Linked DNA regions of Homo sapiens: regions 1, 3 and 4 are each linked to region 2. The links come from fine-mapping of genetic effects on plasma protein levels. A gene starts in region 2. Each other region holds a variant in brackets. All regions are shown on one strand. Distances are between the middles of the regions. Region 1 overlaps SYN2 (synapsin II). Region 2 holds the start of TIMP4 (TIMP metallopeptidase inhibitor 4). Region 3 overlaps SYN2 (synapsin II). Region 4 overlaps SYN2 (synapsin II).

What was found. A credible set is the group of variants that fine-mapping cannot tell apart. PIP is the posterior inclusion probability: the model's chance that the variant is causal. The UK Biobank Pharma Proteomics Project read protein levels with antibody pairs (Olink). The fine-mapping took linkage between variants from a reference panel, not from the people measured, so its PIPs are less certain.
Region 1: its variant is the best candidate, but not a certain one, in a credible set for the plasma level of the TIMP4 protein (UK Biobank, PIP 0.68).
Region 3: its variant is the best candidate, but not a certain one, in a credible set for the plasma level of the TIMP4 protein (UK Biobank, PIP 0.88).
Region 4: its variant is the best candidate, but not a certain one, in a credible set for the plasma level of the TIMP4 protein (UK Biobank, PIP 0.62).

What each region holds. Positions count from the first base shown.
Region 1 is chr3:12,109,562-12,117,669 of GRCh38, reverse strand. The region is part of intron 1 of SYN2 (synapsin II); the gene reads right to left. Among named protein-coding and RNA genes, the nearest start is that of TIMP4, 45 kb to the left of the region's middle. The variant A/G (reference allele first, on the strand shown) is at 3,282.
Region 2 is chr3:12,154,582-12,162,689 of GRCh38, reverse strand. It overlaps TIMP4 (TIMP metallopeptidase inhibitor 4), which reads left to right and starts at 3,778. Exons shown (of 5, transcript NM_003256.4): 1 at 3,778-3,988; 2 at 5,208-5,305; 3 at 5,756-5,870. The coding sequence starts at 3,850. It overlaps SYN2 (synapsin II), which reads right to left. Exons shown (of 13, transcript NM_133625.6): 6 at 1,082-1,144; 7 at 536-678.
Region 3 is chr3:12,124,174-12,132,281 of GRCh38, reverse strand. The region is part of intron 1 of SYN2 (synapsin II); the gene reads right to left. Among named protein-coding and RNA genes, the nearest start is that of TIMP4, 31 kb to the left of the region's middle. The variant G/A (reference allele first, on the strand shown) is at 3,782.
Region 4 is chr3:12,090,872-12,098,979 of GRCh38, reverse strand. All of the region lies in intron 1 of SYN2 (synapsin II), which reads right to left. Among named protein-coding and RNA genes, the nearest start is that of TIMP4, 64 kb to the left of the region's middle. The variant T/CCT (reference allele first, on the strand shown) is at 3,530.

The sequences.
Region 1 (8,108 bases), 45 kb after region 2:
GTAACAGATTCTGGCACTTCCCACTCATACCATCCAGAATGCTGTTGGTTCCAGTTCCTGATGTTATTTGGGAGGGTGAGTTGGGATAGAGTTAGTTCTCTGTCTCCTGGTTCCTCTCTAAACAATGAATGATGAGCTCTTACACAGGCACAAAATTCAGAGCAATATATCTGAAGTAATTTCCAGCACTTGATTTAGAGAACAGATTTAAATAAGATAGGATATTTCTTCTAAGGATTGTACATTGGTAAGGTACAATTAGGGACTAAATCTGTCTATCTCAACATTGAATCCCAAGTACCTAAGAAAGTTGTCACTCAAAACGTAAATGCTGAATGATTCAGTAGAGATCACTGGAAGAAAGTGCCTTGTTGTTTTCTCTAAGAATAACAACTGGATCCAGTGATCCCATATTTAAGCTCATGTGAACAAGGAGAGATCACAGTGATGGTACATCTTTTTATAAATCCATGAAGGTGGGGAAAAGGACATGGGGTTGTAACCAACTGCACTGATTTTATGTAACTTCCAAAGGACAGAAAATTATTGGGTAATATTGACACTACAATGACGTTTGTTTCCTCCTGAGGTTAGACTCCAATCAAGAATGCCTTAGACGGGCTGGGTGTGGTGGTGAATGCCTATAATCTCCATATTTTGAAAGGCTAAGGCAGGAAGATTGCTTAAGCTGAGGAGTTCGAGACCAGCCTGGGTAACATAGTGAGACCCTGTCTCTACAAAAAAAATAAAAAATTAGCTGGGCATGGTGTGCATGCCTGTAGTCCCACCTACTCGTGAGGCTGAGGCAGGGGGATCACTTCAGCCCAGGAAGGTGAGGCTACAGGGAGCTATGATCCTGCCACTATATTCTAGCTTGGGCAAGAGAATGGAGACCCTGTCTCAAAAAAACAAAAATAAATAAATAAAGTATGCCCTAGATTTTAGAGCTCACAGCCACATTTGTAATCAACAAAGGGGAACCCTCTCCAAAATATGATAAATGCCTCTGAGAATCTTTACTGTAGAGGAGGAGACTGTTTAATGCCTCTTCCCCTCGTTCTCCACAAAACACATAAAGCTTACTTTGGATCCCATCTCATATGACTAGAAAAGGGTTGTGAGAATGATAACTACTGAAGTCAAACCTAAGACAGTGGATATTCTGGCCACTCTGAGGATATAGCTCTCTAGCAAAAAGTTCGTTTGCCACCAGATCATTGACCGATCACAAAACCAAGGTGAGACCATGGTTACTCTTGTTTCAGGTCATCTTTCTCTCTGCTTTCCGGGCAACCTTTTCCTTTTCCTTCTTCCAGCTAAGTCCCTATTATCTTCCCCTCTTCTTCCAACCTTTCTCTGATCATGCTCCCCAATTCCATGTTGGCAATCTGAAATACAGCATCCTTACAAAAATCCCTAGTTTCAAGTCCAGAAATCTGATTAAAGAGTTTTTCATTTCCTTTGCAGGAGTTCAGAAAGGTCCATAATTTTTGCTGTCTGCGGGCTATGGGTTCATTATTGCCAGACTTTGATTTATCTAGGCCACGTCCCCTAAAAGAGCTGACATTAGCCCCATGAATCAGCTAACAAGTGGTGCCTATCTTTTCTGGGCTATCATTAACCCTCTAATCCTGACTCAATGACTCATTCAGGGCTCTGACAGTCTTGACTGAGAAACGCCTAGTTAAAAGGATAGGCACTTACCTAAAAGTGAAGTAACAATATCAATGCAATTAATTTTTGAAAACCTATTATATGCTAGGAGGTGCTGTACTAGGAGATGGGTGTACAGAGATGAACAATTCCAGACCCTGCTGTGAGGAAGCCAACAATTCATCAGAAGTTCACAGAATGCCTACTATATGCTACATAGTGTACTGAGTGCTGGGGGAAAATATAGTTATATTCTGGGGAGCAAGACAGCACTCCCAAAACATAATCTTTTACCCTAATGTAAATTTAGGGAGGCAAAAATCAAAGACCATCAGCCAGAACCCCTTGGGATTTAAGTTCCTATGTAAATTGGAATTCTGGGTCCCTTGCACACCTTTTCTAAGGAACTGGTTTCAGAAGAACCCTATGATAGCTTATTAAAAATACGGAATGAATAAAAGTTTAAAGGAGAAACCTGAATCCTAGAAGGTTTCATCTGATATATGGCACAAAAATTCACGCTTTTCACAGCCAACTTTCTTGGCACTTTTTTGTAGGTAAAGTACAAGATACGAGGGTTGAAACTGTTCTTATGCAGCCACTGAAAACTGGCTGTGGACATTCTTCCCTCAAAAGTTGATTTTACTTACAGAGCTAGATTCTAAAGTAGGTAGTTGTCCATGCAGCAGAATCTGAGTGATGAAATATATCCTTGCTTTCTGAAACTCCACCATGCATTCCTTTAGGTCCTAAAGAGCAGTACTAATGATAAACCGGAATAAGGTGTTCTGGACCCAAACTCTGTTTCTACCATTTATCAATTATTTGACCTTGCACAAGTCACTTACCTGACTGAGTCTACTCTAGAACACATGTTTGCTGATTCTCAATGGAGTTTTCTTTCTGCAAAAATGCCTTTGTTCAGATGAAAATTAGATCATTCTTTGAAATGACAAAGGTGAAGTCATTTCAGGGTAATAAGGCATTTATCTAACAGAAACAGCAACTGGGGATAACATTGGGGATGGAAAGGCAAGTTTCTTGGGGGCATATTGTGGAGGAAAGATTCGGGGTGACAGAACAGAAAGTTACAGGCTAACAGAGGAGTTGTGGTTAATAGAAAGCTCTCATGTTAGCTTGGAGCCTGGTGAGTGCACTGCTACGTTCTCCTTGTCCAGCAACTGCCTTTAACCTACATTACGGTTCTCTTCTGAAGCTGTGGAGAAGGTGGGGAAGAGGGGATGCTCAAAGAAGAAATAGTACATTTCTAAATAATAAGTTTCTAAATTTGGTTTCCTTCTCCCTTCAATATTTTTTTATGAAAAATTTCAAACATATGGTGAAGTTGAGAGTTGAAGGGATTTTACAGAGAACCCCCCACCTAGATTCTACCATTAACATTATAACACTACACAAAAATTAACTCAAATGGGTCAAAGTCCAAAGGATAAAACTATAAAACTGTTAGAAGAAAACATAGAGATAAATCTTCATGATCTTAGAGTAAGCAAGATTTTTAAGATATACACCAAAAGCACAAGTAACCAAAGAAAAAACAAATTGGCTTTCATCAAGAGTAAAAACTCTGGGCATCAAGGGACACTACCAAGAAAATGAAAATAATTTAC[A/G]TAATGGGAGAAAATATTTGCAAATCATATATCTCATAACAGTTTATTTACCCAGAATATATAAACAGCCCTTACAACTCAACAATAAAAGATGACAGAATTAAAAATTGGGCAAAGGACTTGAATAGATAGTTCTCCAAAGAACACATCCAACTAGCCAAGAAGCACATAAAAAGATGCTCAACATCATTCGTCATTAAGGGAATGCAAATCAAAACCACAATGAGATATCACTTCACACCACTAGTATAGCTACAATAAAAAAAAAAAAAGATGGACTATTGTCTATTGCCAACAAGTGGTGGCAAGCTTGTGGAAAAATGGAAACTTTCATACACTCTTGGTGGGAATATAAAACGGTGCAGCATTATAGAGAACAGTCTGGTAGTTTCTCAGGAAGTTAAACATAGAGTTACCATGATCCAACAATTCCATTCTGGGAACTGAAAACAGGTGTTCAAATGAAAACTTGTACATGAATGTTCATAGCAACACTATTTACAATAGGGAAAAGGTGAAAATAGCCCAAAATGTCCATCAACTGATGAATGGATAAACAAAACATGGTATATCAATATAATGAAATATTATTCAGCCATAAAGAGGAATGAAGTACTGACACTACAACATGAATTAAACTTGAAAAGATTACACTAAGTCAAAGAAATCGAACACCAAAACTAGTACATTGTGTGATTTCATTTTTATTAAATATTAGAATAAGTTAATCCATAAAACAGAAAGTAGATTAGTGGTTACCAGGGTTGAGGGAAAGGGAAATGAAGAATGGGCACAGGGTTTCCTTTTGGGGCGATGAGAAATTTCTGGATTAGATAGTGGTGAGGATTGTACAACACTGTGAATGCACTTAATGGCACCGGATTGTACACCTTAAAATGGTTAAAATGATGAATCTTATATTTTGTGAATAGTACCTCAATTTTTTAAATGGGGAGGGGTAAATATAGCTAATTTTCTCGAAGCATAACTTTTACTCAGAGTTTTTTCCCCTCCTTTTTTAAGGGCTTTTACATTAAATAATTACAAATATTATGGAGAAAATGTAAATCATATATAACATATTAGAATCAAAACAAGATTTCAAAATATTTCAAGTGAAGGGCAGCAACTATTGGGTTACATACGTACACTCTTCTCCTTAGGAATACTTTGGTGGAAAAAAATATTGCATGAAGATATTGGTACAAGAACTAGGATGCTGATCTGGACCACAAATATCCCTAGAGCACAGAACAGAGAAGAGAATGAAATGCTTCTTTAGGATGATAACAGACAGACTAAGACCACCACGGGGCCTAGAACGTGCACAAAGCCCTCTGCACAAGAAAGCTCTGTCACTCAAAAGAACAGGCACTAAATACCTTCTTGACAGTTCCTTCATTCATGTAAGGTTCAACTCAAGTCTTACCTACTCTACAAAGCATTCCCTGGTCTTTACAGCCCATGATGATCATTCCTCTCTGGACTATCATAGAATTTACTACTTGTACCACAATTATATACCATATGCTAACCGGATATGACTTAACTCCTGGGGTATTTATTTTTTTTAAAAGTGCACTGCAAGATATCCATGGAAGCAGCTGTGGTATAGTATAATGAACTTTCACGTGGAGGCAGAAGAAATAGGTTTATGTTTTAGTCTGCCAATCACTATTAATTTGCTATGACCTTGGTTGAATACTTTCTCCTCTTTTGGTTTTAGAGCCCTCATCTAGAAAATCTATATAATAATTAACAAGGTTTATAGGGGTCACTGTGATAACCTAGAGAATTATGTGCAATATTTTGCACACTGCCAAATACTACATAATGTGAGAGATTCTTAGTACTTTTATATTTTAATGGGTTAACAGACTTGTAACTCCACTGCAAAATTTTTGAAAGCATACCCTATAGCTGTGGAGGTCTTTGTCTTCCACAGCTATAAGCTGGGTTTGAGTACAGGATAGGCACCCCAAATAGTGAACCAAACCTAAGTGGCCCATGTCACCGTTCATTTGACAGGGGCAATTAATCAATGCTGAATTAAAAAATAAAATTAATTCATTGAATCTGACTGTGAAGTTGCCAGGAATACCCTCAAAGAAAATAGAGCTGATCAAAGAAGTGGAACAATGGGGCAGGGGATAGCAGACAGTCAAACTGTAGCATGATATTTTACTTGTACACCAGTGCTTTGCTTTCAGATCCCAAGCAGAAGGCTCTTCTAGACTCAGAGCACTTCTGATAAGCCTCTCCTTAGGTTACACCACACTCATGTTTTTCAGTGACAAACACTGCTCCCCCTCTTAGCAGAGATTCTAGGGAAACAAACCATACCAATTCACCCAGGGGTCTCACCTCAGAGTTTCTGCCAATGTCCTAAGAAGTTTCTGAAAGTTGCCTTCCCAGAAGCCTGCTGGATACAACAATGATGCCATGACCCAGATTCTATTTCATTTTATCAGACACCAGGATTCCTTCTCCCAGCCCCTTAATGCGTGGGCATCCCAAAATAATACATCACACTACACTAGCCAAGGATTCTCTAATTTGTCAACGTGGAACAGTAGTCAATATCCCTAGGAATGAATGGCCCAAAGCAGTGAACTGATGAGCAAGGAGTTTGGATCTGTTTTTCTTAAAAAACAGCCTACTAACCAGAACCACTCGGTAAGCCAGTAGAGTGGGTAATATATTGACATTAAAAGTAAATTCAAAGCTTTTGAGTCAGAAGTCCCACTTAAGATATAGAGGAAGGTCTAAAAAGTAAGATCTGCTAAAAGATGAAAACGCTTCCTCCAAACCATCAAATAGGAGTGCTTAGGAATTTCTAGTTCTTTAGGGTTGCCGAAGGACCTGAAAAGGATCTGAATAGGATGAGATTATGATAATCCTGATGATGAAAATAATAACAACCTTTATTGAGGGTCAAAATGACAGATACCATGCTAAGTATATACAGACCACAACCCCATTAGGTAAGTGTATTAGTCCATTTACACACTGCTAATAAAGACATACCCGAGACTGGGTAATTCATACAGGAGAAAGGCTTAATGGACTTACAGCTCCAAGTGGCTGGGGAGGCCTCACAATCATGGCAGAAGGCAAGGAGGAGCAAGTCATGTCTTACATGGATGGCAGCAGGCAAAGAACTTCCGCAGGGGAACTCTCCTTTTTAAACCCATCAGATCTCATGAGACTTATTCACTATCATGAGAACAGCACAGGAAAGATCTGCCCCCCTGATTCAATTATTTCCTACTGGGTCCCTCCCACAACACATGGGAAGATGAGATTGGGGTGGGGACACAGCCAAACCATATCATTCCACCCCTGGCTCCTCCCAAACCTCATGTCCTCACATTTCAAAACCAACCATGCCTTCCCAACAGTCCCCTGAAGTCTTAACTCATTTCAGCATTAACTCAAAAGTCCAGTCCAAAGTCTCATCCAAGACAAGGCAAGTCCCTTCTGGCTAGGAGCCTATAAAATCAAAAGCAAGTTAGTTACTTCCCAGATACAATGGGGGTACAGGCAATGGGTAAATACAGCCTTTCCAAATGGGAGAAATTGGCCAAAACAAAGGGGCTGCAGGCCCCATGCAAGTCTGAAATACAGCAGGGTAGTCAGAGGTCTTCACAGCAGCTCCTCCCATCACAGGCCCAGAGGCCTAGGAGGAAAAAATAGTTTCATGGGCCGGGCCAGAGTCCCTGTGCTGTACAAGTGCACAGAAGTCAAGAATTGGGGTTTGGGAACCTCTGCCTAGATTTCGGAGGATGTATAGAAATGCCTAGATGTCCAGGAAGAAGTCTGCTGCAGGGGCAGGGCTCTCACAGAGAACCTCTGCTACAGCAGTGCAGAAGTGAAATGTGGGATCAGAGCTCTCCCAGAGTCCCTACTGGGGCATCACCTAGTGGAGCTGTGAGAAGAGGGCCACTGTCCTCCGACCCCATAATGGCAGATCCACCAACAGCTTGCACCAAGTGCCCGGAAAAGCTTCAGGCACTCAATGCCAGCCAGTGAAAGCAACCAGGAAGAAGGCTATACCCCTGCAAAGTCACAGGTACAGAGCTGCCCAAGACCATGGGAACCCACCTTTTGCCTCCATGTGATCCGGATGTGAGACATGGAGTCAAAGGATCATTTTGGAGTTTTAAGAGTAAGTATTACAATTATTACCATTTTATGTTTTTAGACAGGGTCTCCCTCTGTTGCCCAGGATGGAATACAGTGGCACAATCACAGCTCACTGTACACTTGAACCCTGGGCTCAAGCAACCCTCTTGTCTCAGCCTCCCCAGTAGCTGGGACTACAGGTACACATCACTACACCCAGCTAATCTTTTAAATTTTTTGTAGAGATGGGGTCTTGCTATGTTGCCTAGGTTGGTCTCAAACTCCCAGGCTCAAGCGATCCTCCCATCTTGGCCTTGGAGAGTTGGGATTACAGGCATGAGCCACTGTGCCCAGTATATCACTATTTTAAAAAAGAAAATACAGAGGTTTTATTTAAAAACTTGTCTTAGGTTACTTAGCTTTTAAATGGTAGGGGTAAGGATACAAACTTAGATCTGAATTTCTCCCAAGTCCGAGTCTTTATATACTCTATTGCCTCTTGCACGGGCAGACTTCCCTCCAATCATCCTGTATCTACCCCAAACCCAGAAGAGTTATAGATATAGCTGGGTCTTATTCCCTTCCTTACAGAGGAAAAGGCTGGTGTCAAGAAAAAAATCAAGGAAATTTGGAGGTGGAAGGTGTGTTGGGGAAGGAAGGAAAGATGAAAAGAGAACTCACATTTACTGAGCGCTAACTAAA
Region 2 (8,108 bases):
CTATGGATTCCTTCCAATGAACACAATATATAAGATGTGTAACTGTATAAGATAGAGTACATGGGATCCCAGAGCTACCCAATTAGAGTTATCAAAAATATTAAACAAATCTGTGATTAGTAAAATATGTGTTTCTAAGTAACAGGAGGTAGTGGCAAGCCTAACAAGTACCATTATTTTAAAGTAGGAATGAGAATAATCCATAGAGATATGTGTCTCAACTATAAGATCTAAGATCTAAGAAAATCAGTAATCACCTTTAGTGACAAACTCCTATGTACAGGTAACTAATGTAGTCTGTCGTCTCTGTTCAAAATGAAGAGAAAGCTAAATTTCCCTTAGAGGCAAGTGAAAATGAATATTAATATATTTTCTCATCTTAGTCCACAGACCCCTCCTCTGACTTAAAAGGAACCCAGGTAAAAAAATCTCTGACTTAAGTGGCACCCTCTCTGTTATCTGAGAGTTGGCTGCAATGTGGAGGCTCAGCTTTTCCATCATCACTGAGGAGAAAACATACCCCACTCTTACTCACATGTAAGCCTTGTAGTTGTTGCCAATCTTCTGGACCCGGATGTCATACTTGGAGTCAATGAAAGGCTCTGCAGTGGCATAGGTCTGGGTGAGAGCCACCACGCTGGCAATGTCCTGGAAGTCGTAGTGGTTTTCCACTTTGACCTAATGTTAGAGCAGGGCAGAAAGGGGGAAAGGGAGACACACACATACACACACTGAGAAGTCACAAGGGCCCTGAGCCTCCAAACCCACCAATATGTATCCGATCCAGACACTAATCTGGGTGCCACATCTCCCCAGGAGGCCCCTTCTCCCTAGCTTCCCTTCCCAGAACTCAAGGGCCACACTTGCTGCAAAGGACCCAGAGGACCAAGCAGGTGGCTTGCATTCTGCTTACTGAAAGAGGTCTGGTTGGGTGACACTCATGGCTTTAGAGGTGGCAAATCATCTTCTCTTTGGAAAGAATTCATCAGTGACAGAGGGAGAATAGCAGTTCACAAATGGGCGCTCTGAAAACTGCCCTTCTTGGTTCAACCCTGAAGCACAGCAGGCCTCTCTGCCTCACCTTGCCCATGCCTGAGTGAGCGTGGCCAATCTTCACCACCACAGGGAACGTGGGCAGTGTCAGCTGAAATCAGAAGAGAAATGAATAAACTGTCAGAGTGTGCCCATCTCTCCGTGGAATCCTACACATATTTTTCTTGGGAATACCCTTGGGAGGGTTCTTTAAAGAACTAGTCCAATCTACTTGCTTTACAGATTAAAAAACTGAGACCCATGGAATGACAGTGAGTTCCCAGGGTCACAGAGCATATTAGTGGCAGTGCTACAAGAACCCTGTACTCTTATTTGGTATACCCTACATCTTTAAAATGCACTGTCAATTTTCTCTGCATTAGACAAAACCTGGGCAGGACTGGCCCTCAGACAAAGAGAATTAAAAAAAGAAAGTATCTCTGAAAGAGTGAACTTTACTATATGTAGATGTACTTTAATAAACCTGTATTTTTATTTTAAAAACACATCTTTGGCATCTTGATGTCCCTGTCAGCATGTACCCTCTTGGTACCTACAACCTTCAAAGGCCCAGCTTTCCTGTAATGATCCTGGTTGTTTTCTCCCTCTTTCACACTCTTCACTGCTCACCAATACCCCAATCTCACCACCAAACAAGGCTTTGCATGTGAAGGCCCATTTCTTCCCAGCTTGGGGTTTGAAAGAGAGCCGGTAGAAGAATTCAGTATGTTTATAAATGCAGAGAGATCCTTAGGGGAGCGAACTCTACACTGAGGTAGCCATACTTTAACAGAGGAGCAACAAAACCTTAAAAGAAGGATTATCCTCTAAGGGCAAGATTTCAAGCTGCTACAAAATGGTGATGTAAGAAGTAATATTGTGGAGTGGAAGGAGCACTGGGCTAGATGTCAGGAGACGAGTACTCTAGTCCTCTTCTGCCACGGACTTTCTACAAGTCACTGTATCTCACTGGGCCTCAGCCTTCACATCTGTCCAATGAAGAGATCAGATGGGATGCTTTCTGAGCTCCCTTCAAATAGTACATCAGCCTCTATCTTGGTCTGAACATTGTATGAAGAACCAGCCTGGATGCTAACCCGGGCATTTCATCTTTCAGTCAGACTCAGCTCTCTTTCAATTCCCTTCTTTTCAAATATCACTAACACCATCAAAATGAAAAGGTATCCTTTGAAGGAAATAATGTTGACCCTGATGAAAAGTCAGACTCCTATGGGAACTAAGATTTGAACAGATACTGGGGGTATCTGGCCTGAGGATCTCAGCATTCCTGGTTGAGGCCAGCCAAGGATGGGAAGAAGAACTTCAAAGGGCTTTAGAAATCACGTAGTTCAACTCTACTTTATGAAGAAAAAACTGAGGCCCAGAGAGGCAAAAGTCACAAAGCTACAGTGACAGTCAGAATTGGAACCCAGCCTCCCACTATCCAGTCCAGCACCATGTGGAAACATCCCACAGCAATAATCCCATGGAGATTTGGGATTTGGAGGCTTGCAACACTGTGCCCAAACAGCAGACAAGGCTCTGGTCACAGTCACCCCCAAGTCCCCTGCTTCTTTGTTTTTTCTTTTACTTTTTTTTTTTTTTTTTTTTTTTTGAGACGGAGTCTCACTCTGTCGCCCAGACTGGAGTGCAGTGGCACAGTCTCAGCTCACTTCAACCTCCGCCTCCTGGGTTCAAGCCATTCTCTTGCCTCAGCCTCCTGAGTACCTGGGACTACAGGTGTAGGCCACCACGCCCGGCTAACTTTTGTATTTTTAGTAGGGACGGAGTTTCATCATGATGGCTAGGGTGATCTCGAACTCCTGACCTCAGGTGATCAACCCGCCTTGGCTTCCCAAAGTGCTGAGATTACAGGCGTGAGCCACCACGCCCAGCCTGCTTCTTTGTTTTCTAAGCTGTCCCACCTTCTAGAACATGACAGAGTCTCCAGTGAGAAGGGACATGCAATAAAAATCAATGTAGTCTAGGGCCTCGAGAGGGCTTTGAGGTCCAAGGTTTGCCCTAAGTGATGGGACACTTTGTGTTTTGTACACCAAGAGCGCTGTCTCCAGCTATCTGGAGAGTCTGAGGCTCTGGGAGTGAGAAAGGGTTTCTAAAGCACTGGCTGCTTCTTTGACATCTCTCCCCACCCCCCAGGCAACAGAGCCAAGACACACACACCCCAACTTTCTCTGTCCTGTTCTATTACTGTTTGCTGTTGCTTTGGAGCCTCATAAATAGGGCATTGAAAGCACTTCCTGCAGCTGAAAGAAGCCCTGAGTAGCTCGTCTCATTCCCAGCGTGCAGCTCAGCAAGGGGTCCGTCCTTCTCTGTCACTGTCTCTTTTGCCTGTTGTAATTCTGTCTGCCTCTCTGGGACTCTGCCTGTCTCACTCTTTCTGTCTGTGCCTCTCCTCACTCTTGTTCTTTCTGCCTGAATCACAGCCCTCAGTTTTTCTGTCCTCATGCATTTGTCTTTGTGGCTCTTTCCGTCTTTCTGCCCTTGACACCATCCCCTCTCCCAGTGCTTCCCCTCTGCTTCCAGATCGCTTCATGACTTAGGCAGGGAAACAGAGGTCAGGGCCTCCTTCCAGGCTTCCCTCTGCATCTTACTGAGTATGCAGGTCGGAAGAGCCTCGGGTCCTGCCTCCGCGGGTGGCCTAGAGCCAAAGGAAGGCGGAGCCCGTCGGGGCGGGATTGGCCCTTAGGGCCACCTCATAAAGCCTGGGGCGAGGGGCACAACGGCCTTGGGAAGGAGCCCTGCTGGGGCCGTCCAGTCCCCCAGACCTCACAGGCTCAGTCGCGGATCTGCAGTGTCATGCCTGGGAGCCCTCGGCCCGCGCCAAGCTGGGTGCTGTTGCTGCGGCTGCTGGCGTTGCTGCGGCCCCCGGGGCTGGGTGAGGCATGCAGCTGCGCCCCGGCGCACCCTCAGCAGCACATCTGCCACTCGGCACTTGGTGAGTCCGAGGTCCGCGAGGTCCACAGCAGGGGGTGGTTGTGGGGGATTAGTATCTGGCCAGCAGTACACCAGGAGTCCAGAGGAAAAGGGAGGAGCTCAAATTCTTACCGGTTGTCTCTTGCTGAGGCTGATGGGTGGAGAAGGACCAGGCGCCATAGCAACCTTGCAAGCCCAGAACCTGACTGATTCATAAGGAAATGAAGATTTCATCAGGGACTTCCATAGCGACCTCCCTCACTCCGGCCATACTGCAATTATGGAGTGTCATTACACAAGGTGTCACCGGAGCTATCTGATGATTATTCTGAACTACTAGACTGGGGACAGAAAGGGGAGGGGAGAGGGCTTGCATTGTAACTACCCGTGTCTGTCCAGGCCTATAACTGAGGTTGCCACCAAGCCCCTATGGCAACACACACGTTCTGTCCTTTCTCTTCCCTCTGCCTGGAATGCCCTCCCTCACACCCTTAAATTCCTGGCAGACTCCTACTCATCCTTCAAGGGCTAACTTAGGTCTCTCCCCTTCTCTGCAGGCTCCCGGGCTCCTTGGTGCCGCCTCAGCATCTCTAACCGTCTTAGCGCTCCTACTATGCTGTGCTGTTGTTCTTTACACGTGTGCACTCCACTAGATCAAGAGCTCGGCAGGATGGGGACCCTGTCTTAATCACATCTATGGGCCTAGTGCCTAGTGCAAGGCCAGGCACAGAGGAAGAACATCATCAACAGTTTTTGGTTATTAATGCTCAAATGGCAAGAGATGCAATACCTCAGTGCAGGGTCAGAACATTTATGAATTCAATAAACATTTACTAATATCAACTGTAGGCGGGATGAGAGGCCTTGACCACAGCAATAGATAAACTTCACACCGACTGCCCTGAAGGGGCTCCTCCTCCCTTCTCTACTCTGACTCCTACCCTGTGCCCCACTGCACAAACGGCTATGGAGAACTAGAGCTCTCCAGACTAACTGGTTCAAAAGGCAGAAACAGCTTAGCGGTTATAGGACCTAATAAGCCTGAGGGGTTTGGAACTTCCAGTGACTGCAGGGGAGGTGTTTCCAGGTCCCCCTTCTCACACATCACGTTGCTCACAACCCAGCCACACCAAAACCAAGAACTGCCCTATAGACTTCTTCATGGACCCTGGATCATCCAGACCTCAGGTGTATTGCCCCCACCAGCTGCTGAAGGTTCCCTCTTTTCTCTTCCTATGCAGTGATTCGGGCCAAAATCTCCAGTGAGAAGGTAGTTCCGGCCAGTGCAGACCCTGCTGACACTGAAAAAATGCTCCGGTATGAAATCAAACAGATAAAGGTACATGGGGGCAGGCTGGGATGTGTAGCCCCTAAGGCTGATGGAGAAAGTGGAGTCTGTGTTCTGGGAGGGCTGGTAGCTTTCAGGTGGCCTGGCTCAGTAATCCTTGGGTCTAGATACTGAAGTGGAACTGGATGAGATTTGGAGGCAGAGCCCATAGAATCCCAGGGATATTGCCAGGGAGGGCCTCAGCATCCATCTGGTCCCACAGCTGCTGGTGTATGGTGCCACTACAGGTACCTACTGGAATAAACCAAGGTTTAGGTGTTTTTTGTTGTTGTTGTTTTGTTTTAAGAGAGAAAATAACCCAGTAGGGACATCTGAGGACACAAAATCCTCAACTAGACTTTTGCTTACATTTTTAGGCTGAGAAGTGAGAGGTTTTTGTCTGTTAATATATACAGTACACTCACTGACCCAATATTGCCTTTTTTTGTAATTGCCTGTCAGATGTTCAAAGGGTTTGAGAAAGTCAAGGATGTTCAGTATATCTATACGCCTTTTGACTCTTCCCTCTGTGGTGTGAAACTAGAAGCCAACAGCCAGAAGCAGTATCTCTTGACTGGTAAGTTAAAAGACCAACAACTGGCCTTAATATAATAGATTCTGCCCTAGGGGAGGTAGTGAGAAAGGAGCCAGGGTCTTCCTTGGGCAGTAGGCTGAGCCAGGTGGCATTTTCTTGGGCATAAAACAGAGCTGTGTTAGTGACAGACAACCTCTGGGTTAGGAGGAGCCTTGTAACCTCCCTTTAAATGTAAGAGTTCTTAGTACAGTGACCCTGGCCACCGTTTCACTATTTTAAGGACAGGCTGCTCACCCAGTGTAGGGCAGCTGCTTCCGTTTTTCAAATAGTTTAAATTAGTATAAGATTTTTGGCAACTTGAGTCGAAGTCTCCTCTCTAAAACTGCTCCTTGCAGGTCAACTCTGCCTTTTGCACAGGACTTAACAGGAGCTTGAGTCTAACATAGTTCTGTCTCTGTGAACTTGGGCCCAGGCAGGATTCCTCCATACTGAATTGGCTGGGATAGAACAGTTAAAGAATCACACAAAAATATGACTCCATAAATGAATGCAACATTAAATTATTTTGGAGTTCAGAGAACGGAACTATTTGGTAGTTGTGAACTATCAGGGAAGCTTCATTGTGTAGGTGGGATCTAAACTGGCCTGAAAACATAAAACAATATTTAGAAAGAAAGCAAGGGAAAGAAAAAGCACAGCAGTGGGGGAGGGAACAGGTGAAGGGATTCCACGATCTATCCACACATTCAGCAATGAATGACCACTTAGTCACTGCCATGCCTTGGCCAGGAGAGTGGAGATTCAGTAACAAGGCACAGTCCTTAAAAGAGTTCACTGTCCAGACATGGCTCTTGATGAGTCATAGGCACTGGAGGCTACAATGATAAGGGCTTCCTAGCTCTGAGGATGTGGAATTGTACAGAACTGAGGAGCTCCTGGATGGAAGAGGCAGAGGCAGGACACACCACTGAGCCCTGCAGTTCCCAGGTCTAGCAGACCAGGCCCTTTCAAACTCTATTATCGCACCTCCTTCCTAAGCACCTGCCCTCTGTGTGTCTAGCCCGCTGCTAGGCATGGAGGTACAGCAGGGGAAATGAGGAAACATGTTCCCTGCCTTCAGGGAGGTCAAGTCTAACTGAGGGTGGGGAGAAATGACAAAAAATAGTCTAAGAAAAGTTATCAATGGTGCCCAGGTCCTACAGGAGAAGGCACAAGCTCCTTTGCCTGGTGTTGAAAGCTCTTTGTGACCAGAACACTGCTGCCCTCTCTAGCTTTGTCAATATCAGTTCCCAGCCCCTCACTTTCCCAAGAACTGAACTCAGCTACCTGTGGTTGCAGAAGGTATGCTGCCAGGCTGTGTCTCCCTGCCTCTGCACAGGATAGTGGCAATGACAGGAAGCCCTTCCCCCAACCTGTTTGGTAGGCAGACTCCCACTCATCCCTTCAAGGCCCAATGCAAGCACAGTCTTCTCTGAGACACCTTCTTTGCCCCACACTCCTTCCATAGATGGAAATAATTGTATGTTCCTTTGTTCTTATACTGCACTTTGTATAGAACCACACAATAGTGTAATTTTTCCCTACTTATCCATCTACCCTACTCATTTCTAAGCTCCTTGGGAGCAGAGATCCTGTCATTTTTATATCTGTATTCCTGGTACTAGATCACAGCAGTCACTCAGTGAGTAAATGATTGAGCGACTGAGGTTCTAAAAGAGGCATGGGCTAGCTAGGTGGTCAGAGATGGCTTTGAGGTGGCACTGAAAGGGTCTTTGAAAGGTGAAAAGGAATCTACGGCCATACCACCCTGAACGCGCCCGATCTCGTCTGAAAGGTGAAAAGGAGCTTCATAGGTAAAAAGGGGGAAATTTCCTATGGGGAAGGTAAAAGACTCACCAATCTAGAGCAGGAGCCTGGCCTGTGCAGATACTGGGAAGGGCTGGAAAGGGGAAGGGACCTATTATTTATTGAATATCTTCTGTGGGACCACAACTGTGCTGGGAACTTTATAGACAATCTCTCATTTAATCTGACAACTTTATAATTTTCATCTTCCAGCTGAGAGGTTATACAACTTCCTTAAGATCATTCAGCTAGTAAATGACAGAAAAGAAAGGGGGATCCCACACAGACTTTGACTTTAAAGACCACATTCTTCTCTCTGTACCATGCTAAACGAAAAGGCCTTCACCAGATCCCACAACTCTGCCTCGTACAAACATAATCTGCTTATCTTTTTGCTAGAAAGATTATAGTAGTTTTATTTATTGGTCCCTTCAC
Region 3 (8,108 bases), 30 kb after region 2:
CTCTGCTCTACTCATTTTGTGTTACCAAAGCCTGTCCTACTGTTTGACACATGAAATGTTTATAGAGTTACTGAACACAGCTAGATATCTGAAGGTTAATATCAGAGGACAGCTGAGTGCTATGGCATGTGCCTGCAGTCCAAACTACCTGGGAGGCTGAGGCTGGAGGATCACTTGAGCCCAGGAGTTCGAGTGCAGCCTGGCCAACATGGTGAAACCCTGTCTCAAAAAAAAAAAGAAAAAAAAAGAAAAAAAAGAAAAAGAAAAGAAAGGAAAAAAAAGAAAAAGAAAAAGAAAAAAATCAGAGAGAGCAACCAGGCTCAATCTAATACAGAGTCCTAGGCTTGAAGACCTCTGTGAATGCCTTCTCTGGAGTTTATGAAATTTCATCAGGTGATCTGTGGGAGGCTTCAACAGCCTTATGTGGCAGATGAGATCTCTTAAGAAAAGCAGCAATCCCAAAGATCTGAAAATAACTAATTTCTGTGTAAACATCCCAGCTGTGATTTCAGTTGGGAACAGCAAATCACTTTTTCTGAATAGATTTTCTGAAGATCTCTATTTTGGGGAATAATTAAATGATGCAGTATCACAAGATAACAAGATTATCAAATACAGGAAAAAAAAAAAGAATCCTGTAACTCAGGAGAACACATGACGGGAAGATTAGATGCATTTGTCTGTAATTATAGTGGAGCTACAGAACAGAATGCTTTGGAGTCATGGGACAGATTTTCTTTCCATGACTGACTTATAAAATTAAATCAGGCTGATTTGATATTGGAGCAAAGTGGGTCAGTTATCAAGTTTGCTTTGAAGAGCAGGCAAATATAATTTTGAAGATTTGGCTTTATTTTATGCCAGATATGTAAGGCTCCTAGCATCTTGAATACTGCAGGTCTACCTCCACTGTACGGTCACGAATCACACCCACAGTCACCGCTGTCACCAGAGCTGCAGGTTCCCATCCTTTGGTAGCAGTCTAGATACAAGGAAATGTCCTCCATGATTTGGTCTCACCCTTCTGTTTGCAACTAGTATCTCTTCTTTTAAGTCTGCTTCAGTGTCTCCATAGGAATTAGAAAAAGGCACCTCTTCCTCAGGATGCCTGCAGGACACACTCCTGCACCAGGGCACTTGGATTGGTGAGTGGAATGTGGGGCTGCATCCCAGCCCCTACTTGTCTCCTCAGATAGATGTCCTTGTACAGTGAACAACCTGCATAAGCATATGCAGGAGCCCTGCCCTACTCCTTCTATAATTCAGACAGTTTCCCAGCCCCTGTGCCTTGGACCACTGTGAAATCACCCCTGCCATAATTCTTCAAGGTCCAAAACAAGTTCTGCCTCCTTAGGAAATCTTCCCTGACCTCCTCTCCTGCAGTAGTTTCTCCTCCTTCTGGAAGCCTAGTCCGAATGAAACCTGTTGATTTGTCACTTTAAACAGACAGTCTAGTATCATCAGCTGATTTTTAATTTGTGTCTCTTTTCTCCTCTGTATCAGAAGCCCCCTGATAGTGCATACTGTCTTATACATCCTTCCTATTCTCCAACAACTCAACCTCACACTCACCACTGCCTTATACAAAGCACATCTATGACAGTTAATTTTATGTGTTAACTTGATTAGGCCACAGGTGCCCAGATATTTGTTTAAACATTATTTCTAAATGTGTTTGTGAGGGTGTTGCTGGATGAGATTAACATTTGAATGAGTAGACTGAGTCAAGCAGATTGCCCTCCCCACTGAGGATGGACATCATTTAACCCACTGAAGGTCTGATTAGAACAAAAATGTGGAGTACAGGAGAATTTGCTCTTTCTCCCTGTCTTCAAGCAAGGACATAGCTTTTCTCCTGCCTTTGGACTCAGATTGAAACTTATACCATTGGCTCTCCCAGTTCTCAGACCTTCAGACTTGGACTGGAACTATCATTAGCTCTCCTGGGTTTCCCATTTGCCCACTGCAGATCTTGGGACTTCTCAGCCTCATAACTGTGAAAGCCAATTCTTTATAACACACACACATGCACACACACACACACGCACACAGAGATGCATACACATCTCTCTGTGTATATATGTACAGACACACATATACCTATGTATACTCACACACACATATATATATGTACACACACACACACACACTTGGGCTGCTATATCAAAATGCCATAGACTGGCTGGCTTAAACAACATTTATTTCTCACAGATCTGGAGGCTAGAAAGTCCAGATCAAGGTGCCAGCAGATTCAGTTCCTGGTGAGGGCACTCTTCCTGGTTTGCAGCTGCCTTCTCTGTGTCCTCACATGTGAAGGACAGTGAGCAAGCCGTGGTCTCTCTTCTTATGAGGACACTAACACCATCGTGAGGGCCCCGCTCTCATGACCTCATCTCAACCTAATCACCTCCCAAAGGCCCCACCTCCAAATACCATCATATTAGAGGTTAGGGCTTCAACATATAAATTTGGGGGACACAAACATTCAGCCCATAACAACACTCTCAGTAAAGACCTATTTCTTGATTCCCAGCAGAAGACACCTGCCCACCTGGGACTTAAGGGAACAAGGAACCATAATACACAAAACAATATCACACAAAAATACACAATACCATATGTTTATCAGATGACAAAAACAAATAGCCATTTACATCTTCTGGCTGGGGTATACACACTCCCTGAATCAAAAAGAAGGAAGAGTGCCCTCCCCACCATGTTACACAGAAAAAATTCTTTATGCCTTCTCATTTTGCACGAAATTTTGCATTTTCATCAACTGCTGAGTGGCACAGTGGAAAGAGTGTGAATTTTAGAGCTAGACTAATCTGGGTTTAAATCTCAGGTCCTCTACTTGCTGTCTGAACTTGGGCTCTTTTACTTCCTTGTTTCTTCATCTATAAGGTAAGGACAGTACCCATTTCCAAAGTTTGTTAGAATTAAATGACTCTGCCTTTAATGTATTCCTGAAACATTATCTGTCCTCTTGGGCTTTTGTACGACTTTCCCTCAGATTTTTGCATGTCCTGCTTCTTTTTTAATGTGTAAGTCTCAGCTCACATATTCCCTCCTATGTTTCTACTGACTATCTGAACAAAAGTAGTTTCCTCTGTGCCCCCTCCATCATTCTCTATATTATCTTCATAATATTCATTATTTCTATTTTGAAATCTTTTATTATTCATTTTATTCTTATTTCTATTTTGAAATTTTTTATGATTCATTTTATTATTCTTCGTTATTTCTATTTTGAAATTTTTTCAACTACTTATTATCCATCTGCCCAACCAAAATGTAAGCTCCATGAGAATAGCGACCTTGTGGTGGTAGCCACTGTATCAATCTCATGCCCAGCTCTGTTACAATGCCTGGTACATGTTAGTGCTCTAATGTTTGTTGAATGAGTAAATGAGAATGTAAAGTATCAAGTGCACCACAGCCACACATTTCAGGGGTTTTTTTCCTCCTCTTTTTATGTAAAAACCACTGGGTTAAAAAAAACTTTCCTGCGTGAGTTCTTTGAAATGGAGAGCATTTCAACAAAATGAATTCATTCTTTTAATGCTGGTCAGGCATTTATAAATATAGACAAATACATGTTTTTTCCAACGTATGATGGGACCATCTTCCACCTTAATGTTCTATTTTAGGTATAAGTCAACAATTACTGAAGTATTTATACATTTTATTCACATGATAATATGAAAAATTAACAAGATAATATTCCCTCAGCCTTCTGAGAGGGAAAATTTTGCTTAGAGATCTTTTACTTATTTTACTT[G/A]TGAAGAAACAGAAGCCTGAAGAAGGGAAATTTGACAAGTTCAAGATCAAACAACAGTTTGAGGCAGGCCATGTTCCCTTTCCATTCCACCATGCTGCCTCCTTAGAGCAAGAAAGGTAACTCTCCTCCAAATTGAAGAAGACTGGAATTCAACACATAGAAATCCCTAAGTGATATAACAGGATGTAGAAACTGAGGACCCGATTTCCACTCAGAGCGCTTGTGAGATCAAGTATCATAAAGAATGTAAATAATTGGCTGGGCGTGGTAGCTCACACCTGTAATCCCAGCACTTGTGGAGACTGAGGCGGGAGGATTACTTGAGTCCAGGAGTTCGAAACCAGCCTGGGCAACATAATGAGATTCTGTCTCTACAAAAAAATAAAAAATTAGTCTGGCATGGTGGCTAGTGTCTGTGGTCCCAGCTACTTAGGAGCTGAGGTGGGAGGATCGCTTCAGCCTGGGATGTTGAGGCTGCAGTGAGCCATGTTCACACCACTGCACTCCAGCCTGGGCAACAGAGTGAGATGCTGTCTGAAAAAAAAAATGTAAACAGCTTAGTATTATAGAAGCACAAGGGAGTTTTATTTTTATCATTTTGCTGATGCATTGATTCTGTTTGTAATACCACATCATCAGTACACAGTTCGTAGAGCAAATTGCTGCAAGGAAATAAAAGAGATCTCCTCACATTCTGCTTTTGTTAGCAAAGGAGACTTGATCCTCTTTTCCTGGTCCAAGTGCAAACTGACATGGCTGGCATTATCAGCCTACTCACCACCATGGCGCAGCAGAAACATCCTCATACCTCAAGGCAACAATACTTTGGATTTCCAAATCCAAACCCAGGTGGCACATTCCATTCTACAATTTTCCAACTGGTGCCAGTTCAGTGGGGATATTATTCACCAGAACAGACACTAACAACTGAATTTTGGCAGGCTGGGAGAACTGGCACTGTTCTGGAAGAGTCATGCCACAGGTTCCCAGATGCACTTGAGTTTAGCAACATGGAACCACACAGGCTCTGAATGGAGAAATGGACCTTAGATGCTATCCTCTCATAGGCAAAGAAACAGAGGCTTAAAGACAGAAAGTTGACCAAGATCACACGGTGGGAAAGCTGATGTCTTCTCAATACAATGTCCTTTTTGTTAGATCAAGGTTAGCCCAGAGTATAAGCTCATGCCTTAATAGAGAAATATGAAGACAGATAGTGCTGTTCTTGCTCTTTTCTCAGTGAATTTGTCCATCCTTTCAGCCACCTCTAATGATCCATTGAAATACACTTCACATTCAAAAGCTCTAAAAAGTAGTTTTAAAAACCAACTCAAGCTGGTTAGCCTGAAAACCTAGTTCATTTTTACCCCTAGTGTTTGGACACATTCCTTTGAAAAGACGTTCATTATGTAGTGCTGTTGTAATGAAATATATTCTATAAGCCTTTCAAAATATTGTAATTCTAATTAATTTACTCATGCAACAAAGATTCATTAGATTAGGCACCTATTATTTGTTCACCTATATGAAAGGCACTTGGTAGGGGGAAGGGGAAGGAAAGACTTTACCCTGCTCTAAAACAAAGAAGAATAAAAATAAATTAGTGTTCGAGAGAAGTACCGTAGATTGTTATCTAAAGTACAAGCACCAAAATTATAACTGCAATGAAATTAATATCAACTAATATCTATTAAGCACTAGTACCTGTGCTAACCACTTTATACACCTTATGAATTAATCCTCATAATGAATTATATAAGGTAGATAGCATTATCTCCCAAATTTACAGATAACTAAGGCACAAAGAGATTAAGTAACTTGTTCAAGGTCATACAACTACTGGGTGGAAGATTCAGGATTTGAAACTAGGAAAACTGACTCCAGAGCAGATTAACCACTTCATACTACAACTAAAATATGGCATTATTCAAAAATTTTTGTACATTAGGAATTCATCTGAATTGTTTTTTCTTCATTTGGGAGGGGATTTACCCACAGGGCTTCTAATATTTTCAGGGTCTGACAGTGTAGAAATTAAACAGTAGGATTTCAATATGTGATGTGGAAAGGGCATTTCAAGTGACTTTAACAAAGGTAGTACAGCATGAAAGTGAAATTCACAAATCACTGCCCAGTGGTGGTGCAGTTATCGTATAATACAGAATATACATATGGCAGACAGGAAGTGCCAGGGCAACAGGGATAAAGTAGGATAAAGCCAGTTCCTTGCTTCTTGGTTTGCCAATGGCCAGGAGAGGGACTTCTGCCGATCTATGAAGCACATCATTTGGAATTTGGGGAATGATGAAGCAGAAACCTTGACAGTACTCTCTAGAAGCGAGATTTCTACTTAAATATTGTTTCCCCAGTTTCCAGATTCTGTGCTTTAGAGAGTTTCCTAAAATACAGCTAAAAGCCTGAGGCCAAGAGTAGCTTTCCCCTTATGTGTAAACAATTTTGGTATATGACTATCTTCACTTGAGTGACTTAAAGACTCTAGTCTGTCTCTGTCATTCATGTGTAGGAAACTTAAAATGACATCATCATATCCTACCTCATACCCCAATGCAAAAATCTCCTCTGTAATATTTATAACAAGGGGACATCAGAGAAATTTCTCAGTTTTTTTGTGTGTTTTGTGGGTTTTTTTTTTTTTTTCACTTTTAGACAATTCATTTTTTCAAGCTGGGCTGACATTTGCCATTTTGAAGCTTGCTGTTTGATTCTGGCTCTGTCCACATAAAACTGGTCTGCTTCTTTCTTGTCCATGTCCATCCTGTCTGGGACAGTGAACAGGGCCCCTTGAGACCACTTCTTCAGGCTATACTACCCCTATTCTCTCAAACATTCCTCCTATGATAAGGTTTTCAGACTCAGCATGAAATGAAGGCTCCTCTTTGAAAATGCTCTGCTTATGTTCTTAGTGCATGATAATTAAAACCTAATGAAATTCTTCCAGATGGTCAGATCAGACCTGAATAAAGCAGCAAGTATTGGAAGTTGGATATCTCTGAGATTTTATTGAGTGTAGCTTTCTGTTGACAAACTACCACTTAGGGAAAACATAATCTTGGAGAAATGCAAATCTGTTTATTTCTTCAAAGTTATAAATTTTAATCAGACCCAGCAGTATTAAATTTGTTCCGTCACTTTATATTATGCCTTACTGTGGAAAAAATAAACTTAGAATCCTCAGCAGCTGGCTGGGCGTGGTGGCTCACGCCTGTAGTCCCAGCACTTTGGGAGCCTGAGGTGGGTGGATCACGAGGTCAGGAGTTTGAGACCACCCTGGCCAACATGGTGAAAAAGATACAAAAAATTAGCCAAGCATGGTGGCACACGCCTGTAATCCCAGCTACTTGGGAGGCTGAGGCAGGAGAATCACTTGAACCCGGGAGGCGGAGGTTGCAGTGAGCCAAGATTGTGCCATTGCACTCCAGCCTGGGCGACAGGGTGAGACTCCATCTCAAAAAAAAAAGAAAAATCCTCAGCAGCTGTATACATTTCTCCAAACTTAATTTCATTATTTGTCATACAGCTATATTTAAAGAATATAACATACTTGTTTATTTGCTAATTGATCTTAATATTTTTCTATATTAATATACACTGTTGAAATCGCTTGCATATTCCTCCCCAATCCTATTCCTCTACATCCCTTCCCCAGGGATAACTACTCTGAATTAACATTCATTATTCCTGTATGTGTTTTTATATAGTTTTACTACATGTGTATATATCCGTAGACTGAATATAGTACTGTTTTGCTTGTTTGGGGCTTAATATAAGTGATGCTATTTTATATCTATCTGCCTACGACCTGCATTTTTCCCACTCGGTGTTATATTTCTGACATGTATTCATGGTAATATACAAAACCCTGGCCTATTTATTTTTATTACTTGAATACATCACAATTTATTTATCTGTTATGATGGACATTTAGTTTACTCTGAAATTTCTTATTGCAAGTAATGCTGAGTTCATCTTTCTTGTACAGGGGTCCCTTGCACAAGTCATTTCTCTTTAATTTTCTAGTAATTACACATTTTATTTCTATTCTTTTTGTGGTTAGCCTTAACTTCTTTTCTAAAAAAAGGACATACTTTACTTACCTAAACATAACTTTAATCAGTAGCTCTACTCTCCTCCCTAGTTTTAGTATACTTTAGGACTGGTCATTCCCCTTCTCTCTTTACTCTCCTCCTATGTCACATATTATTAGGCAATGTTTTAATTTCACCTCATTTTTATATTCCCTGAATTCGTCAGTTTTTATTACTTTGTACAGTCAAGTTTTTTCTATTTTTATTTTGTTTTGCTTTAG
Region 4 (8,108 bases), 64 kb after region 2:
CATGCTCTTCTTTGTCTCTGGTAGCAATTTTTATCTAATGTCTATTTTGTCTAATATTGGCACAGTCATTCCAACTCTCTTTTGGTTACTATTTGCATTATATATATATATATATATATATATGCTTTTGCTTTTAACCTATTTGTGACTTTAATGACTTTAATGTGTAACTCTTGTAGACAGCATATAGTTGAATCATGTTCTTTTAAAATACATTCTGTCATTCTGTTTTTTAAGTGTTTAATCTAATTTCATTTAATGTAATTATTAAGGTAGGAATTACATCTGACATTTTGTTGCTTGTTTTCCCTATATCTTAATTTTTTATTCCCCTATTCCTCCATTAATCTCTTTTGTGCTAAATTTGCATTTTCTACTATACCATTTAAATACCTTTGTCATTTATTTACTTTTTTTAAAAAGTTACTTTCTTAGTGGTTGTCTAGGGAATTACAATTAACATATTAATTTGTAACAAACTTGTTTGGATTGATACCAATTACAATAGTTTACAAAAATTTTCTTCCTATATAGTTCCATTCCCTCCTCACCCTACATCCTTTGTGCTATTATCATATAAGTATTTTTATATATTGTATGCCCACTGACACAAATTTATAACTACTGCTAGCAACAATCTCTCATTTTTTTGTACATCTAGGAATGTTTTAATTTCTCCTTCACTTTTGAAGAAAAATGTTGTTAGAAACAGAATTCTTTGCTGATAGTCTTTTTCTCTTAGCATTTTGAATGTGTCATCCCACTGCCTCTGGTCTCCATGGTTTCTGATGAGAATAAGCTGTTAATCTTTTTAAGATCTCTTCTACATGATGACTCACTTCTCTTTTGCTACTTTCAAGACTGACTTTGGGTTTGGCTTTCAACAGTTTGATTATGGTGTGTTCAAACTTTCAAAAATGTATCCTACTTAGAGTTCATTGATCTTCTCAGATGAATAAATTCTTTTTTTTTAATTATACTTTCTAAGTTCTAGGGTACATGTGCACAACATGCCGGTTTGTTACATATGTATACATGTGCCATGCTGGTATGCTGCACCCATTACATGGGTCATTTACATTAGGTATATCTCCTAATGCTATCCCTCCCCACTTCCTCCACCCCACAACAGGCCCTGGTGTGTGATGTTCCCCACTCTGTGTCCAAGTGTTCTCATTGTTCAATTCCCACCTATGAGTGAGAACATGTGGGGTTTGGTTTTCTGTCCTTGCGAGAGTTTGCTGAGAATGATGGTTTCCAGCTTCATCCATGTCCCTACAAAGGACATGAACTCATCCTTTTTTATGGCTGCATAGTATTCCATGGTGTATATGTGACACATTTTCTTTTTTCTTTCTTTTTTTTTTTTTTGTTGAGATGGAGTCTCGCTCTGTCGCCCAGGCTGGAGTGCAGTGGTGTGATCTTGGCTCACTGCAAGCTCCGCCTTGTGGGTTCACACCATTCTCCTGCCTCAGCCTCCCGAGTAGCTAGGACTACAGGCGTGCGCCACCACACCCGGCCAATTTTTTGTATTTTTAGTAGAGAAGGGGTTTCACCGTGTTAGCCAGGATGGTCTTGATCTCCTGACCTCGTTATCCACCCATCTTGGCCTCCCAAAGTGCTGGGATTACAAGCATTAGCCACCGCACCCGGCCATTATGTGCCACATTTTCTTAATCCAGTCTATCATTGATGGACATTTGGGCTGGTTCCAAGGTTCCAAGTCTTTGCTATTGTGAATAGTGCCGCAATAAACATACGTGTGCATGTGTCTTTATAGCAGCATGATTTATAATCCTTTGGGTATATACCCAGTAATGGGATGGCTGAGTCAAATGGTACTTCTAGTTCTAGATCCTTGAGGAATCGCCACACTGTCTTCCACAATGGTTGAACTAGTTTACAGTCCCACCAACAGTGTAAAAGTGTTCCTATTTCTCCACCTCTGGATGAATAAATTCTTGTATTTCATCAGTGTGGGGAGGTTCCTGTCATTGTTTCTTCAAATATTCTCTCTGCTCCTATTTTCCTTTCTCCTTCTGGGACTCTCATTGTTTATGTTGGTATACTTGATGGTGCTCTACAGGTCCTTGAGGCTCTGTACATTTTTTTCTTTCTGTTCCCCAGATTGTATAATCTCAACTGATCTATTTTCAAGTTCATTTTTTTTCCTGCTTAAATCTATTTAACCTCTCTAGTAAATTTTTCATTTGTTACTAACTTTTAAACTGCAAAACTTCTACTATATATGGAGAGAGTTACACACACACACTCATTCTCATTCACTCTCTCTCCTTATTTGGGGAGACATCATTCTCATATTTCCTTTAGTTTTTTAGATATAGTTTCCTTTAGTTATATGAATGTATTTTACGTAGTGAATTAAAATCACAAACAAGCAGAAGCTGATGATCACAAATGAATTTTATAATATAATCTAGTAGCAAAAGTCTTATAACTAACAGAATAACAGAAAAGCCATGTGCTTTATTCTCATTTAACTTTGTGAAAATGTCACTTGGAATCCTATTAGTGAGGATGTCCTTCTGGAGCTCTGGACTGGTTCTCAGAACACCTGGGTTCTCTTCTAAGCCACCCCCTGACCTGCTGTAATACTCTGAAGGAGCCAACAAGAATCTGTCTTTTAATGTGAAAATGCTTAATTTTATCTTCCACTCATACATGCCCTATCAAGTTTACATTTTTAGGAGATCTCTTTCCCTGCTGTATAGAGAAAGATTTATAGGAAAGCAAGGCTGAAAGCTTTAAGATAGGAAGTAATTTCAAGACTGTAGGTCACACTGATGGTGACCTGGCCTAGGAGAAATGGATGACATGAGATAAATTCTAAAGGTATAACAGATTTGACATAGTGTCAAGTTAGATGTCATGAATGGCAGGGGAAGGTATCAAAAGTGACCCCAAGGTTCTAGCTTGATTGGGTTGATGGTTGTACTATTTATTGAGATGGAAAGGAAGTGCTGGGAAGGAGATGAGTTTGAAGGAGGAAAAATTCAAGAGTTCAGTTTTGGATGCGTACATAAGAACTGCAAGTGGGGATGTCATGCAGATATTTGAAGTTCAAGGATAGGTCTTACTGGAGGTAAAAATTGGGAAGTCATTAAGACCAAGATGGTATGAAATCTATGGTGATGGCTGCAATCACCCAAGAAAATAATTTACAGAAAGAGAACAACTAAGGGCTCTGTTTTGAGCCCTGAGAAATCCCAACACTTAGAGATCTGGTACTGGGGGAATGATGATGAAAAGATACTAAAAAAGAGCAGCCACCAAGTAGGGGGAAAGAAGAAGGAATGGTCAACTTTGTTGAATGATGGCGACAGAACAAGTTCAATGAAGATAGAGAAATACCCACCAAATCTGTCCAACTGGGGGATGATGGTCCTTTTTTTTTTTTTTTTTTTTTTTTTTGAGACGGAGTCTCGCTTTGTCGCCCAGGCTGGAGTGCAGTGGCGCCATCTCGGCTCACTGAAAGCTCTGACTCCCGGGTTCACACCATTCTCCTGCC[T/CCT]CAGTCTCCCGAGTAGCTAGGACTACAGGTGCCCGCCACCATGCCCAGCTAATTTTTTGTATTTTTTAGTAGAGACGAGGTTTCACTGTGTTAGCCAGGATGGTCTCGATGATCTCCTGACCTTGTGATCCACCTGCCTCGGCCTCCCAATGTGCTAGGATTACGGGCTTTAGTCACTGCTCCCAGCCTGACGGTCCTTTAAAAAAGAGCTATTTTAGTGTAATTGAGGGGAATGGTACGGAAGCCAGACTGTAGTGAGCTGAAGAGTAAGTGGAAGGTGAGAACAAAGTGACATCATGTGTAGATGATTCTGTCTTGAAATGTTTTCTTCCTTTGGCTTTCGTCAAACTAGTTTCCTGGTTCTTCAACCTGTCTGCTGGTGTTGAAGTTCTTCAGAACTTAGGCCATCTTACTTTGCCTTTTCTCTCTCTTCTATCTAAGAACATCAGTCACCACACGTAGGCCAACAACTCCAAGATTTACACTGTATCTTTGTTTCAGATCTCTCCTCTGAGCTCCAGACTTATAAATTCAGTTGCCTATTCAACATATAATTAAACTCAATATTTCCCTTCCATACCTGTTTTTCTTCTAGCATTCCATATTCTCTGTGAATTATATACTCTTCTCAAGTGTTCAAGATGACACCTGGGAGTCATGCTTTACTCTTCTCTCCTTGTGCATCATAACCAATCCAGTAGCAAATCCTGTCCATTCTATTGTCAAATATGTATTGTTTAGAGATATTCTATGTGCTAGGCACTCAAAGGCCCCTTAAATACCTTATCTTTCTTACTAAGGTTCACAAGAACCCAACAGAGTAGGTATTACACTCACCCCCTCATCTTGAAACTGAGACTCAGAATGGCTAAGTTACTTACTGTGGTTACACAAAAAGTAAATGGCATAGATGGAGGTGACTTAATACCAAATATGCCTGAATCCACACTGCCTCTGGCACCCCACCTAGCCTTTCTGAGGCCAAGTCTCCTCAGGACTGAGATGGAACTGATATTTCCTATCTTTAGGCTGTTATAAATTTTTTTTATAAAATATAAGGTACATATCACAGTGCCTAGTAAAGGGTATGAATTCAATAAATGTTGTCTTTTACACTCTTTCACTCCTTCCTCCATCCTGTTTCTGGGGCCAACCCAATGATACTAGGATTACGAAATCAACAAAGATTACTCCTTGCCTTCAAGAAGCAAATAATCTATTTAAGGAGACAAAATGAACACACACAAAACAGATTAATAATATTAGACAGTAGAGAACTAAATATTAAATTGCAGGGGCCAGGCACGGTGGCTCATGCCTGTAATCCTAGCACTTTGGGAGATTGAGGTGGGCGGATCACCTGAGGTCAGGAGTTCAAGACCAGCCTGGCCAACATGTGAAATCCCATCTCTACTAAAAATACACAAAATTCTGGGCGTGGTGGCATGTGCCTGTAGTCCCAGCTACTTAGGAGGCTGAGGCAGAAGAATCTCTTGAACCCAAGAGGCACAGGTTGCAGTGAACCAAGATTATGCCACTGCACTCTAGCCTGGGCAACAGAGCAAGACTCCATCTCAAAAAAAAAAAAAAATTGCAGGGCAGAGCCTTCTTATAAGACTTTTAGAGAAAGGAGAAAAGGCAGTCAGGGGATAGAGATGTACTTTTGAAAAGTAACCATTAGAACAGTTAGGATATAGAGTAAGGATATCAGCAAAGAACAGCAGGACACCTAGAAAAAAGACGCTAATGTGGAAAGGAAAATAACATGCTCAAAGTCAGTGATGAGAGCAACTGATTTCAGCAAAAGGTGCTTAGTTTTTCCCACATCAAAGTATCGTTACTACTAAGTTTCCTTGTTACAGCTGAAGTTCCCAACAGAACCAAGAAAAATTTAAGCCCATTATTAAGACCAAATGTACTTCAGTGATGGCAGAGCCATCATTAAACTAGCTATCTTACCAGGGGAGGAGAACAAGCCCCAGACTCTGACCCACAGGAGACAAAAATAACTCACATGCCCGGGAGTACTTTGAGAATAATATCACACTTGTCAAAGTGGGTCTAATGATGTCAGTCATCTTTTTCTACCTTGCATTTCTTCATTGCAGCTTACACTGACAAATGATACCATTCCTATGTCCACAGTTTTCTTTGATTAAAAACCCACAGAGACCACAATACTAATATGACCACTAAGGCTGAGGCTTGAATGAAGGTTTTATTCTCCAGAATCTGTTCAATAAACCAATTTGATTTTTATAACAAAAAATGTGATACATAATTTGCTCCCCCATTCAGTAGAGATTCTGGACAATGGCATCACAGAATATTGGAGCTAGAAAGAAACTTAAAGATTACTTTCATGTTATTTTACTGATGAGAAAACAGATGCCCAAAGAGGAAAAATAATAACTTTAAGGTCAAAGGCACCCTGTGGGAGAGGAAAAGTAATCAGGATGGCTAACAGGCCCTGGGAGAAGTCACAGAGAACCCCCAGTGAGGGTAGTAATGAAAATGGGGAAAAAGGGAAAATGTTATAGATAAAGCTATTCTCAGAGATCCAATGGGTCTTTAATACTGATCAAGAAACCTAAAAAATTATTCCAAAGTCACCTCAAACTCTGGCTCAACAGGCCCTTCTTCCACCTCTCAAATGTTAAGGTGGTCAATCAACAAACATTAATTGTGTACCAACTATACAAAACATTTTGAAACACTAGAGTCAGTGCTGAAACAATGCAATGACATATGAAACACAGTCTTTGACCCCCAGGAAGCCTAGAATCTGGCTGAAGACATAAGGCATGAGAAATGAAATAATATGAGTGGTCCAGGGATGCCAAATAAGTGGTATAGCTAATAAGTGTTTTGAATTCACAGAAGCTCAGAAAGATCTGCTTGGAATAATAGTTCCTTTGTCTGGAGAAATTTTACTCTCTTCAAAGCCATTCAGATATGACCCCTCCAGGTAAACTAACTTACTTCTTCCTCTATGCTCCCCATACCTCTCTATACAAGCCTTTCTCTCACAGATGAGAGGTTAATTGCTCTCATTTGTATTCCCTACTAGAATGAGCTCGTGGAAAGCAATGATTGTGTCTTAACCACCTCTTAAAGAAAGAGCAACATATAGATTTTTCTATACTTAAATCTAAATCCTAATTATCTTTAGAAATTATGCTTAAAAGTATAGCGAGGAAAGTTTGAACGTTTGGTGCTCCATTTAATAGTGAAGGAATTAAAATATTTTCCATTATTTCCTCACATACAGTCTAAAAAAAGTTCAGATTCCAAGTATCCTCTGATAATCGGCCTTAAATGTGCAAGAAGAGTTAAAGAAAGCATATTTGGGTGAAAAACACACTTTTTTAAAAAAATGAATTTTCTTTGCAAAAAGAAGAATGGATTGATCTGTAGTGATCTGCCTGAATTACCTGTTTTAGTGACATCTTCCTCCATTGATAGTTTATCTACATTTTGTGCAATTATTTTGTCAGTTGGCCAAAGTAGTTCTGAACTCAAATCCAGAAGTTATTAGAAGATTTAACATTCATTTTGCAATAAACACACCTGCCTCTCAATATCCAAGTAAGTCTTTATAGAAAACAGTTGTACATAGGCTGCTTACATTTATTTGGTGGTCAAACCCTCTATTCCAATAGACAGCCTGCAGAGATGTTGAGTGTGGAACAAAATACAGGGGGTAGACCACTGTTAGTGTTCCCACTAAGTCTTGAGGCTTAACTATTTTGACAGAAGCAAATTACTAGCATAAATAATACCCATAATCCAACTTAAATTTTAAAAATACCCCAAATTAAGTAAATGCTAACAGCTCTGAGACAAGGCAAAATACCTGGCTTCAAATCCTAGCTCTTCTGCTAATATTGGATGTGATCTCAAATAAGTCACTTTCTGTCTCTGGGTCTCACTTATAAGAATTACTTGAGCTGTGAGGATCTGTTACCTTTTAAAAAGGCTATAATAATCAGTCTACTTCTCCATCTCTCCATAGCTGATTAATTAAATTTTCCCATATAGATCACAGCAAACAGTTTGGCAAATGCTAACATTACAAGCTATCATTTAGCTTATAAACTATCAAAATATTTCTGAGAAAATATTAGAGCAAGGTTATCTTCTTATAGCTCCATGCTCCTTAAATAAGAGTAATGAGAAAAAAAATACATATCCTCACAGAATACCCATAGAGATTCTTTTTGTAGTACCAATTTTACACAATGATTGTTCTTAGTATATAGTTGTAATGAGCCCAAGGAATATAAAAACATAAACTTAAATTTCTCTACAATCCCACCTCTGAAAGCAAACTATTATAAACAGTTTAGTGTTGATCATTCTTCTAGACTTAAGCCCTCCATCTACCAAGATTATGAGGGGAAGAGATAGAAGAAGGAAGTTTTGAATTTCCATTTCCCTAAAAACAATTTAAAACATGCTGATATTAAAACTAACTACATTATGGAACACAATATTATGGAATAGAATGCCAAATTTACATGAGTTTGTCTTATAACATTTTAAATACATCTATCACTCAAAGCAAACCATTTAGTGC